Regions from separate parts of the Homo sapiens genome. Here region 1 is linked to region 2. The links come from fine-mapping of genetic effects on gene expression. A gene starts in region 2. The other region holds a variant in brackets. All regions are shown on one strand. Distances are from middle to middle.

What was found. PIP is the estimated chance that this variant, and not a neighbour inherited with it, causes the effect.
Region 1: its variant is fine-mapped to the expression of ARRB2 in whole blood (INTERVAL, PIP above 0.99).

Annotation. Positions count from the first base shown.
Region 1 is chr17:4,669,869-4,674,868 of GRCh38, forward strand. PELP1 (proline, glutamate and leucine rich protein 1) reads right to left here. Exons shown (of 17, transcript NM_014389.3): 12 at 4,941-5,000; 13 at 4,642-4,801; 14 at 3,751-3,806; 15 at 3,382-3,588; 16 at 1,823-3,277; 17 at 1-1,663. The coding sequence ends at 1,571. Among named protein-coding and RNA genes, the nearest start is that of ALOX15, 31 kb to the left of the region's middle. RefSeq lists an enhancer at 159-328. The variant A/G (reference allele first, on the strand shown) is at 2,577.
Region 2 is chr17:4,708,111-4,713,333 of GRCh38, forward strand. It overlaps ARRB2 (arrestin beta 2), which reads left to right and starts at 2,522. Exons shown (of 15, transcript NM_004313.4): 1 at 2,522-2,634. The coding sequence starts at 2,612. RefSeq lists an enhancer at 2,140-2,309 and a silencer at 2,239-2,768.

The DNA.
Region 1 (5,000 bases), 38 kb before region 2:
AACATTCTTATCTTAGAAGATAATTCATGTTAAAGAATCTGGGATGGGAAGGGCCACGGTGTCTACAGCTTACTTTCACGTGGTCCCATGAAAAAAGAAATGTGTATAACTACAGATGTATAGATTAGACAGATATATGGGTGTAATATAGATACATGTCTACATGTAGATACGCAGTTTATAGGGATAAGAGTTAACATGACTAAATGTTAATTGGCAAATCTAGGCAAAGGTTATCTATTATACTGTTCTCACTTTTCTGTTTATTTCGAAAACAAGTTGAGGGGTAACTTTTTAAAATCCTACTGAAGTTTCCAAAAATTAGCTCAAATGCCACCTCCTCAAAGGGCTCTTCAGGATACATGTTGGGAGAAATGACTCCCTCTTCTGCATTGCGAAGGCACTTTACTTACGTTCATGATTCAACTGACTGAGCAAAAAAAACCACGGGGCCCCTAGTTCAAGCCCACCAATCTTGGTACCCTCTCACAGACACATCTCTCGGTTCATCCTCACACGTCCATCCCAGCAAGGCCTAGAATAGGATTAGTGCTTAAAGAAAAGACACTGGGACAGTCAGGTGCGGTGTCTCATGCTTGTGATCCCAGCACTTTGGGAGTCCAAGGCAGGTGGACCATGAGCTCAGGAGTTCAAGACCAGCCTGGCCAACATGGTGAAACCCCACCTCTACTAAAAATACAAAAATTAGCCAGGCAGTGGCAGGCGCCTGTAATCCCAGCTACTCAGGAGGCTGAGGCAGAGAATTGCTTGAACCTGGGAGGCAGAGGTTGCAGTGAGCTGAGACCATGCCACTGCACTCCAGCCTGGGCGACAGAGCAGGAGTCCATCTCAAAAAAAAAAAGAAAAGAAAAGACACTGGGTGGGAAATATCCACACCTCAAGAGTGAGCAGGAAGGCCTGGGGTGAGCTTATCAAACTCCTGCCAGGGAGCTGTGAGGGGAACTGTCATTAGGAGGACTAGCCCCAAAACAGAGGTCATTCCCAACGTACCCACTACGGACACCCTTTCATCTTGGGGTAAGGTCCAAATTTCCCAGAATTCAATGACTAAACTGCTCCACACCTTTTCCTAATTTCCTAAACTTCCATAGACTGAGCAATCACTCAGCCTGCCCTTTCAGACCAAGGGGCTGAGCACGCATGCGTGTGGGCATGTGGGTGTTGACACAGGTCCACTCACTAGGATGCATTCTCCACACATTTCCCACCCCGAATACAAACACGAAAGCAGGGCTGTGTCTCTATAACTCCTCATTCTTAACCCTACACACAATTCTGCACGTTTAGCATCCAGCCAGAATCCTACAATTCTGACACCATCGTGCTGAGTGATGGGACAGTCCATTACACCAATGTCAGTTGTTCCTCTCTGGATCGTCAAAAAGAGGACAGCTATGGAGACATCTGGGGAATACTATGGACACCCTGAAAAGCCCAGCAGACACTTGAGCTTCTGGCTGGGGACCCAGGTGTGGCAAAAGGCAGAAGCAGCAGTCGCTATCTAAGGACATAACTTTATTGGAAACAAAGAGTGGGGTGCAGAAGATGGCTAGGAGTCAGGCTCTGTGGGAGGTGGTGGCTTCTCATCATCAGGGGGACAATCGATGAAGTCGGCCAGCATGGCAGCTGTGTCATCCTGCTCCTTTTAGGCACAAAGATACAAGATTCAGAATAGTCACACACACATACACAGAAGAATGGTTCAGGCTGGGCAAACCTCTCCTAAGAGAAGCAGCTGCCACCCCTTCTCCCGCCAGCCCCACCTTCTCGCCCAAGGAACCTTCCCTGCCTGGCCTCTCACCTTTTCCTGGAGAGCTTCGGCCTCTGTCTCTGTCTCCATCTCTTCTTCTGCAGGTGTCTCTGGTGGGGGCTGCACCTTGTCACTCCCATCCTCAGTCTCCTCTTCCAACAGGGTTGGGGGAGCAGAGGGCTCTTCTTCAACAAGCTCCTGGGGAGGGGGCCCTGCCGCAGGGCTTTCCCCTTCCCTCTCCACCTCTCCCTGGGAGGGGAGCGCTTCAGGGGCCAGGGTGGGAGCTGTGTCAGCCCCACGCTCCTCCTCCGTCCCTGGCTCCTCCACTTCCAAAAGCAGCCCGGGTTCAGGTTCGGGTTCTGGCTGCACCTTTGGGGGAGACTCAGGGGGAGGCAGAGCTGGAGGCAGGGTTGGGGGTGGAGGTGCACCTTCTTCTACCTCCCCTCCTGCTGTGCCAAACTCCAGGTCTTCCACCTCTTCCAGTTCTTCTTCCTCCTCCTCATCCTCCTCTTCTTCTTCTTCCTCTAACTCACCTTCTTCTTCCTCAAATTCTTCCTCAAACTCTTCTTCCTCCTCTTCTTCCTCTTCAAAATATTCCTCTTCATCCTCTTCCTCTTCCTCAAAGTCTTCCTCCTCTTCCTCTTCTTCCTCTTCTTCTTCTTCCTCTTCTTCCTCTTCCTCCTCCTCTTCATCACTGCTGTTGATATTAATAACTGTCAAATCCTCTTCCAGGGCTGGGGGTCCTCCCCCACCAGGAGTCCCTTCAGGGACCAACTGGGGTGGAGGGAGCGTCACAGGACCAGGA[A/G]CAGGCGGCGGCGGAGGTGGGGGTGGCGGGAGAGGCCCTGGGGCTGCAGGAAGTTCTTCAGGCTCCTCCTTCGCTGGCACAGGAGGGGAGGCTGTTGGTGGCCCAGTGGGGGCTATAGGGGGTGGTGTGGCACCTGAGGGTGGTGGGGGTGGCAGGGGGGGAAGCCCCTCGGGCACGATCACCACGCTGTCATCAGAGTCACTTTCCAAGGAGATCTCCACATCAGATGCCTCCTCCTTGTCATAGTGGACAAAGGCTGGTCTGGGCACTCTCCCCCCAAAAGTTTCATCTGGGGGTATAGTAGGTGGGGGAGTCCCACTAGGGGCAAGGATGGGGTCCTCATTTGAGCCTGCCCGGTGGTTCTCAGGGCCAGGAAGAAGCCGGGGAGGGACAGACACTAGGCCTGGGACAGAAAGGCCTAGGTGGTTGGCTGTGGTGGGAGGTCCAGGGCGTGCCGAGGGCACAGGGCCTGCTGAGGGCATGGGGCCTGCTGAAGGCATGGGGCCTGCTGAGGGCATGGAGCCCACTGAGGGCATGGGGCCCGGAGGATGGAACGGTGGGGCCCTGAAGGGCGATGGGGCCTCAGGAGGGGGAACTGGAGCAGGTGTGGGGCAGGTGGGGCCCATGGGCTGCAGGGGAGGAACCCGGGGGTGGGTCAGAGCAGCACAGGTCACCAGTGCTTCTGAGCAGAAAGAGGAGACCTGAGGAAAGAAGAAAGGGCAAGTGTGAGCACCAGAAATACTGGGAGTCTCTTGGAAACAAGAGACTCCAGGAACCAAAGAGGGGCTTGGCCCATCACAGTTACCTCAAGGCTATCTTCTCGCTGGCCGAGGGAGAAGGCTTGCAGGGCACAGGCAAGAGGAGGTGGGCAGCGAGGAGACGGGGCCAGCAGCAGCGCCAGCAGCAGGCAGTAGAGTTCACGGCGGCAGCGGGAGCTCGTGTACGGGGAGCTGCCTAGGACCTCACCCTGCTGTACACCCATGACCAGGGGGAGGACCAGGTCATGCAGTCTCTGAAAAGGACAGAGCACACCTGGAAACATCCCCAAGACCACCCAACCCTTCTCCAGAGCCTACTCCCAGGTCGGAATGGACCCACCTCTGGGCCACACCCCCCAATGTGTACAGAGCAGGGGCCCCTTCCCCTATCTCCACGGAGACGAGGCTCCACTAACCCTGTGAGTCTCCTCCTTGATGAGAGGCCCACACATGAGGATGGTCCGGCTGAGGCCTGGGGAAGAAGAATGGTGTGTAAAGGGTAGGCTCCCAACAGACTGACGGCAAGGGCTTCTGAAGCATACAGCCCAAAATGGGCATCAACTCTGCCACTGCCTATCTTGGCCAAGTCATTTAACTTCTCAACTAGAAAATGGGGATCATAAAAGTACCTCTACTGTATAGGGCCACTGACGGTATTTAATTGAGACAATGTAAGTAAAAAATTATAAATTTTATAATTTTGCATTTATATATTTGGGAACAATCGGTTCTCCCCTTCCCATGGGATGGGGTGGCAGGCAGTGAAATATATGGGACCCAGAGGAAAGGCATCCATTAACTGCACAGTATCCGACTAGCAACCTGTGGACAGGTCAGTGGTTACGGTGAGAGCAGGGAGCTCCCCCAGGCAGCCTGCCCTTGGAAGAATGTCAGCTTCACAGGGAGGAGCCTTCCCCGCATGCTGGAACTCTGCCTGATAGAAAGTGGATACACCAAGGACGTGCTGAACGCCGGAGGAAGCGAAGGCCTTGGAGGGGCTGTGTCGGCTACCAGAGCTCCCGGTCTAACCGCAGGACCCGAGGCCGCCTGCAGCCCTGGCAACAGGGCGGCTGCTTGGGTGCCTCCTCCTGGCCTCTCTGCGGGCTTCCGCCTGGCTCTGCATTTCACAGGCACCTTCCCCTTCACCTGCTGTTTGGGGGATCACTTATCGCAGTGGACGAAGGCTGGTCTAGGCACTCTCCCCACAAAAGTTTCACCTAAGGGTATAGTAGGTAGGGGAGTCCCACTAGGGGAAAGGATGGGGTCCCGTTTGAGCCCCAGTGGTCCAGGGCACAGGCCTCACCCACCTCTGAGTGCAGCCGCACACACGTCGCTGTTGGCATTGCTATCCCCTTTCCGGTGGCTTGGCGGGGCCATAGCTTCCCCCACATCCAGCTTTAGCTTCTTGGGGGCGCTAGGCTTCCCAGTCTGCAAACTCCCATCAGGGCTCCCCCGCGGGCTACGCAGCTGGAGGCAGAGAAAACATAAATCACATCCACAGGCAAACAACAAGGCAAGACAGCCACAGCAGACAGTGTTTCCTGAGCAGGCACACTTGGTCAAAGGGCACAGGATGAGTCCTAAGGCGGAGCTGAGGCCTCCTCACCTTAAGGGCATCAGCTGGCGGGGAGATGTCGCTGAGCAGGTGGGTGAGCAGGGCCTCTCC
Region 2 (5,223 bases):
GTAGTGGACACCTGTAATCCCAGCTACCCGGGAGACTGAGGCAGAACAGCTGGAACCCAGGAGATGGAAGTTGCAGTGAGCCGACACAACACCAGTGTCCAGAATTTGTAGGGGGTCTCACTGACTTTAAGAATGAAGCCATGGACCCTCACAGCAAGTGTTACAGTTCTTAAAGGCAGCATATCCGGAGTTTGTTCCTTCTGACGTTCGGATGTGTTCAGAGTTTCTTCCTTCTGGTGGGTTCGTGGTCTCGCTAGCTCAAGAGTGAAGCTGCAGGCCTTTGCGGTGTTACCCCCCTTAAGGCCGTGTCTCCGAAGTTATTCATTCTTCTTAGTGGGTTCGTGGTTTCACTGGCTTCAGGAGTGAACCTGCAGACCTTCCCAGCGAGTACTACAGCTCATAAAGGCAGTGTAGACCCAAAAAAGGAGCAGCAGCAAGATTTAACCGCAAAAAACAAAAGAACAAAAGGTCTACCTAACAGAAGAGTACCCCAGTGCATTGCAATTGCCGGTTCAGGCAGCCTGCTTTTATTCTCTAATCGGCCCCACCCACATCCTGCTGATTGGTTCATTTTACAGAGAGCCGATTGGTCCATTTTACAGAGAGCTGATTGGTCTGTTTTGGCAGGGTGCTGATTGGTGCATTTACAATCCGTGAGCTAGACACAAAAGTTCTCCACGTCCCCACTAGATTAGCTAGATACAGAGTGTAGACACAAAGGTTCTCCAAGTCCCCACCAGAGTAGCTAGATACAGAGTGTGGATTGGTGCATTCACAAACCCTGAGCTAGACACAGGGTGCTGATTGGTGTGTTTACAAACCTTGAGCTAGATACAGAGTGCCGATTGGTGTATTTACAATCCCTTAGCTAGACATAAAGGTTCTCCAAGTCCCCACCAGACTCAGGAGCCCATTTGGCTTCACCCAGTGGATCCCGCTTGGGGGCCGCAGGTGGAGCTGCCTGCCAGTCCGCATGTGCTTGCACTCCTCAGCCCTTGGGTGGTCGATGGGACTGGGTGCCTTGGAGCAGGGGGCGGTGCTCGTCGGAGAGGCTCGGGCCGCACAGGAGCCCACGGAGGGGGAGGGGAGGCTCAGGCATGGCGGGCTGCAGGTCCCGAGCCCTGCCCCGAGGGAAGGCAGCTAAGGCCCAGCGAAAAATTGAGCACAGCAGCTGCTGGCCCAGGTGCTAAGCCCCTCACTGCCCGGGGCTGGCCGGCCACTCCGAGTGCGGAGCCGCCGAGCCCACGCCCACCCGGAACTCGCGCTGGCCCGCAAGCACCGCGCGCAGCCCGGGTTCCCGCCCGCGCCTCTCCCTCCACACCTCCCCGCAAGCTGAGGGAACCGGCTCCGGCCTTGGACAGCCCAGAAAGGAACTCCCACAGTGCAGTGGCGGGCTGAAGGGCTCCTCAAGCGCGGCCAGAGTGGGTTCCAAGGCCGAGGAGGCGCCGAGAGTGAGTGAGAGCTGCCAGCACGCTGTCACCTCTCACCACTGCACTCCAGCCTCGGCGACAGAGTGAGACTCTGTCTCAAAAAAAAAAAAAAAAACAAGAAAAAGAAAAAAAACTTCTGCGCATCCTTCAGAAAGACTGTCCTCATCTGTTCCCCGCTCTGGACAGCCTGCACTCCCTCCACCCCCGCCCGGGCCAATTGCTGTTAGCGGCTGTGTCTTCTGACTCAGACCTCTGTAATAGCATTCCTGGGTAATACCTGTGTATGTGTCTCCTCAACTATTCTAGGAAGGCAGGGGCCATGGTAATTCGTATGTGTCCCCATCGATTGGCATAGTGAATAGCATAACATAGGCACGGATGGATGGGTCCATAGATGGACCGATGGATGGGAGCGGGTGAGTGAGTGGATGTTAGCTGGGATGGGTGGGTGAAGGAGATGGATAGTCAGAGACATTGGAAAAGGGAACCCTGCGAAGATCAAATGCAAACACCAGGAGGAGCTGACACGCTGCAGTGAAGAAGCGGGAGGGCTGGCCACAGAAGGCGGCACGCTCCGAGTGGAGCAGGTGAGCGGCGCGCACTGAAGCAAGCATCACGCAATTGAACCGCTCACCCACGTGTTCCCCCCCACCATCCTCCTTCCCAGACGGCGCTTCAGCTCATTCCACCGCCCCCAGCAGCCCGGTCGCCCCCACCGCCACTGAGAAAGCAAACAAAGGGGAGGAGACCCCTGCAGGTTCTGGATGCCGAAGGCCAATCGAAAGACTTAGATCCCCTGGAAGGCGGGCGCCTTGGTTTAGGGGGGTCCAATCGGTTTCAAGGGGTTGCAGCGGGGCGGGGAGATGGGCGGGAGGAGTGGGAGCTGGCCCCGCGCGCGGGGGAGGGCTACCAGGCTGGGAAGGAGCGCGAAGGGCTGGGGGCGGAGCCAATGGCCCCGCGTGTCTGCTAGGAGAGGGCGGGCAGCGCCGCGGCGCGCGCGATCCGGCTGACGCATCTGGCCCCGGTTCCCCAAGACCAGAGCGGGGCCGGGAGGGAGGGGGAAGAGGCGAGAGCGCGGAGGGCGCGCGTGCGCATTGGCGCGGGGAGGAGCAGGGATCTTGGCAGCGGGCGAGGAGGCTGCGAGCGAGCCGCGAACCGAGCGGGCGGCGGGCGCGCGCACCATGGGGGAGAAACCCGGGACCAGGTAAGGGAGGTGGGGCCACGCGGCGGGGCATGGGCGGCGGCTCGGGGCGGGGGCTGGGACGGTCCCAGACGAGGGCGCAGCGGAGAGGATCTGGGGGCCGGACGCCTGGGTCCCTAGGGACAGCCATCCGGGGCCGCACGCGCAGGTCCTCGAGGATAATGAGGGTGGGGGGGAAATGCCCGGGCCCCTGCAGAAAGCGAGGCCTGAGGGGGATCAGAAAAACCGGTGTCGGGGTTCTCGCAGGGATGTGGGGCCAGACTACTGGGCTCTCCCGTGCAGGCTGCGATGCAGGGATGGAGGAAGGAGGAGCAGGTGGCTGGCCCCGAGGGGTCGTGTACGGGGAGGCTGGATGCCGGGACGGGGGGGATCCACTCCAGACTCGCGCCAAGCCAATGGAAAGCCTCCTATCCAATATCCCCCAGGTAGTCGCGCTGCCCACACCTGTCCCGAGGGCCGGGTGGCTCCTCACCCAAACTTCTACCTTCCCTTGGGTTGCCAGGAGCAACAGCTTCATCTTGGGGGAGCCGAGTGCGTGGCGACCCTCCCTGAAACTAGATCGTATCCCTCTCTCTGGGGGTGGGGGAGGCAGTATTCACCCTGGGCGCGCGTCCACTCCCCGGATGTTTTCTGTGCAATCGAGGCTCTTTCCTTCCACTGATACCCCGAGTTCTCTTTTTTGGTCTCTAGCAAAATCCACTTCCTGTTGTGACTCAACACCCCCAAGGGGCAAGGGGTGGATGCCTGAGTCGCAGGGGAGCGGGAGCAAAAGACGAAAAGGTTGGGGCTGTAGGCCTCAACTCAGAGGGTATCAGGAATAGGGAATTGGTCCTGAGCTCTGGCTTGCTCTGCAAAACATCATATCAACCCCACTTCCAACCTATAGAGTATGAGAACCCGGGTTTCTGAGCATCAAGTAGACGAGCATCAGAAAGAGATCATCAGAGAGATGATCCGTCTCCTGGATCAGGGTTTAAACATCCCAGAGAAAGGGGAAGTTGCTGACTTGTGGGAGGCCCCTGATTTCCGTCATGTGGTTCAGGGAGTGGGACGGATGGACCAAAGGAGACTGCTAACTTGGCACAATTTCCCTCACCCCCATGAAATTCTGGGCCACAGGAAATGGAGCGAATAGCAGGAAGTGTGAAAGGACATCTGCTTCAGCTACCCCTGCTCCCACTGGGCACCTCCCTGGTCATCCCCACACTCTGCCTCCTTGGCCAGCCTAGTATATGCACGCTGCTCCTCCCCAGCCTGGCAGGAGGTGGCTGGGTTAGGATCCAAAGGGCAAGTGCCTTGCAGCTGCTCCAGGGCAATTGCCCCAGAACCACACTCCAGTTGGCCCACTGATTGTGGCTGTCACAGCCCTGTGCCAGGGCTCCTAATGGGAGGACACCCTGGGACAAAGAGGAAAACCAGAAGCAAAGGGGAGGGAGAGCCTGGATGATGCCACGGCACTCAGCTCCCAAGTTGGGATGAAAGATAGGGTGTTTATTCTAGCGGCTACCATATCGATGTGTATTCTCTTTTATTGGTTAGGAATACCTGGGGCCCTCCATACCCTTTGCCTTACAACCTTTGGACAGCTTGGCTTTCTGGGAAGAAGGGGCAAGTGAAGTTGTAGCAGAAACTGGGCCTATGGTAGAAACCATGTAGGGCCAAAGGCCAGGGTCATTGCTCTCCTATATGCTCCAGCTGTCAGAGCTGGAGACCAGATGGAAAGATGGTTAGGTCTTACCCAGACACTGTGGTAACCTGCCCATTGGGGTCCTCTGGGAATGGGGTGGTAGACTTGGAAGAGGGATGGGCTAGTTGGCAGGATTTCACGTTTCTGCTATCTATCTGAGGATCCTTTCCAGGGATCACTGCTGAGGCAGAGTGGATTGGAAGGAGTAAGGTGGTGCTTCAAAGAACAGGCCCACAATTGGCCAGATCACTGGGGTTGCCAAACACTTCCTTACCCTCCCAGCAATGGGTGGAGTCCAGGCTTAAATTGTTTCAGCAACTGGAAAGCAAATAACCTTCAATTCAACAAACTATTTATGCCAACTGCAGAGACAGATAGTGTAATATTGATCGAGAGGATGGACTCGGAGCCAGACTGCCTTGGTTTCTATTAATTCCCACCATTTACTCCCTCTGTGACCTTGAAACACTTGACCTCTCTCTGCCTCAGTTTCCTCACCTGTAAAACAGAGATATTAGGAGCTCCATCACTGGGTGGTTTTATTTAATTTAATTAATTTATTTATTTATTTATTTTTTGAGACAAAGTCTTGCTCTGTCACCCAGGCTGGAGTGCAGTGGCTCAATCTCAGCTCACTGCAACCTAAGGCCGGGCACGGTGGCTCACGCCTGTAATCCCAGCACTTTGGGAGGCTGAGGCGGGTGGATCACCTGAGGTCAGAAGTTGGAGATCAGCCTGGCTAACATGGGGAAACCTCGTCTCTACTAAAAAAATACAAAATACAGGCCAGACACAGTGACTCAAGCCTGTAATCCCAGCCTTCTGGGAGGCTGAGGCGGGCGGATCACTAGAGGTCAGGAGTTTGAGATCAGCCTGGCCAACATGGGGAAACCCCATCTATACTA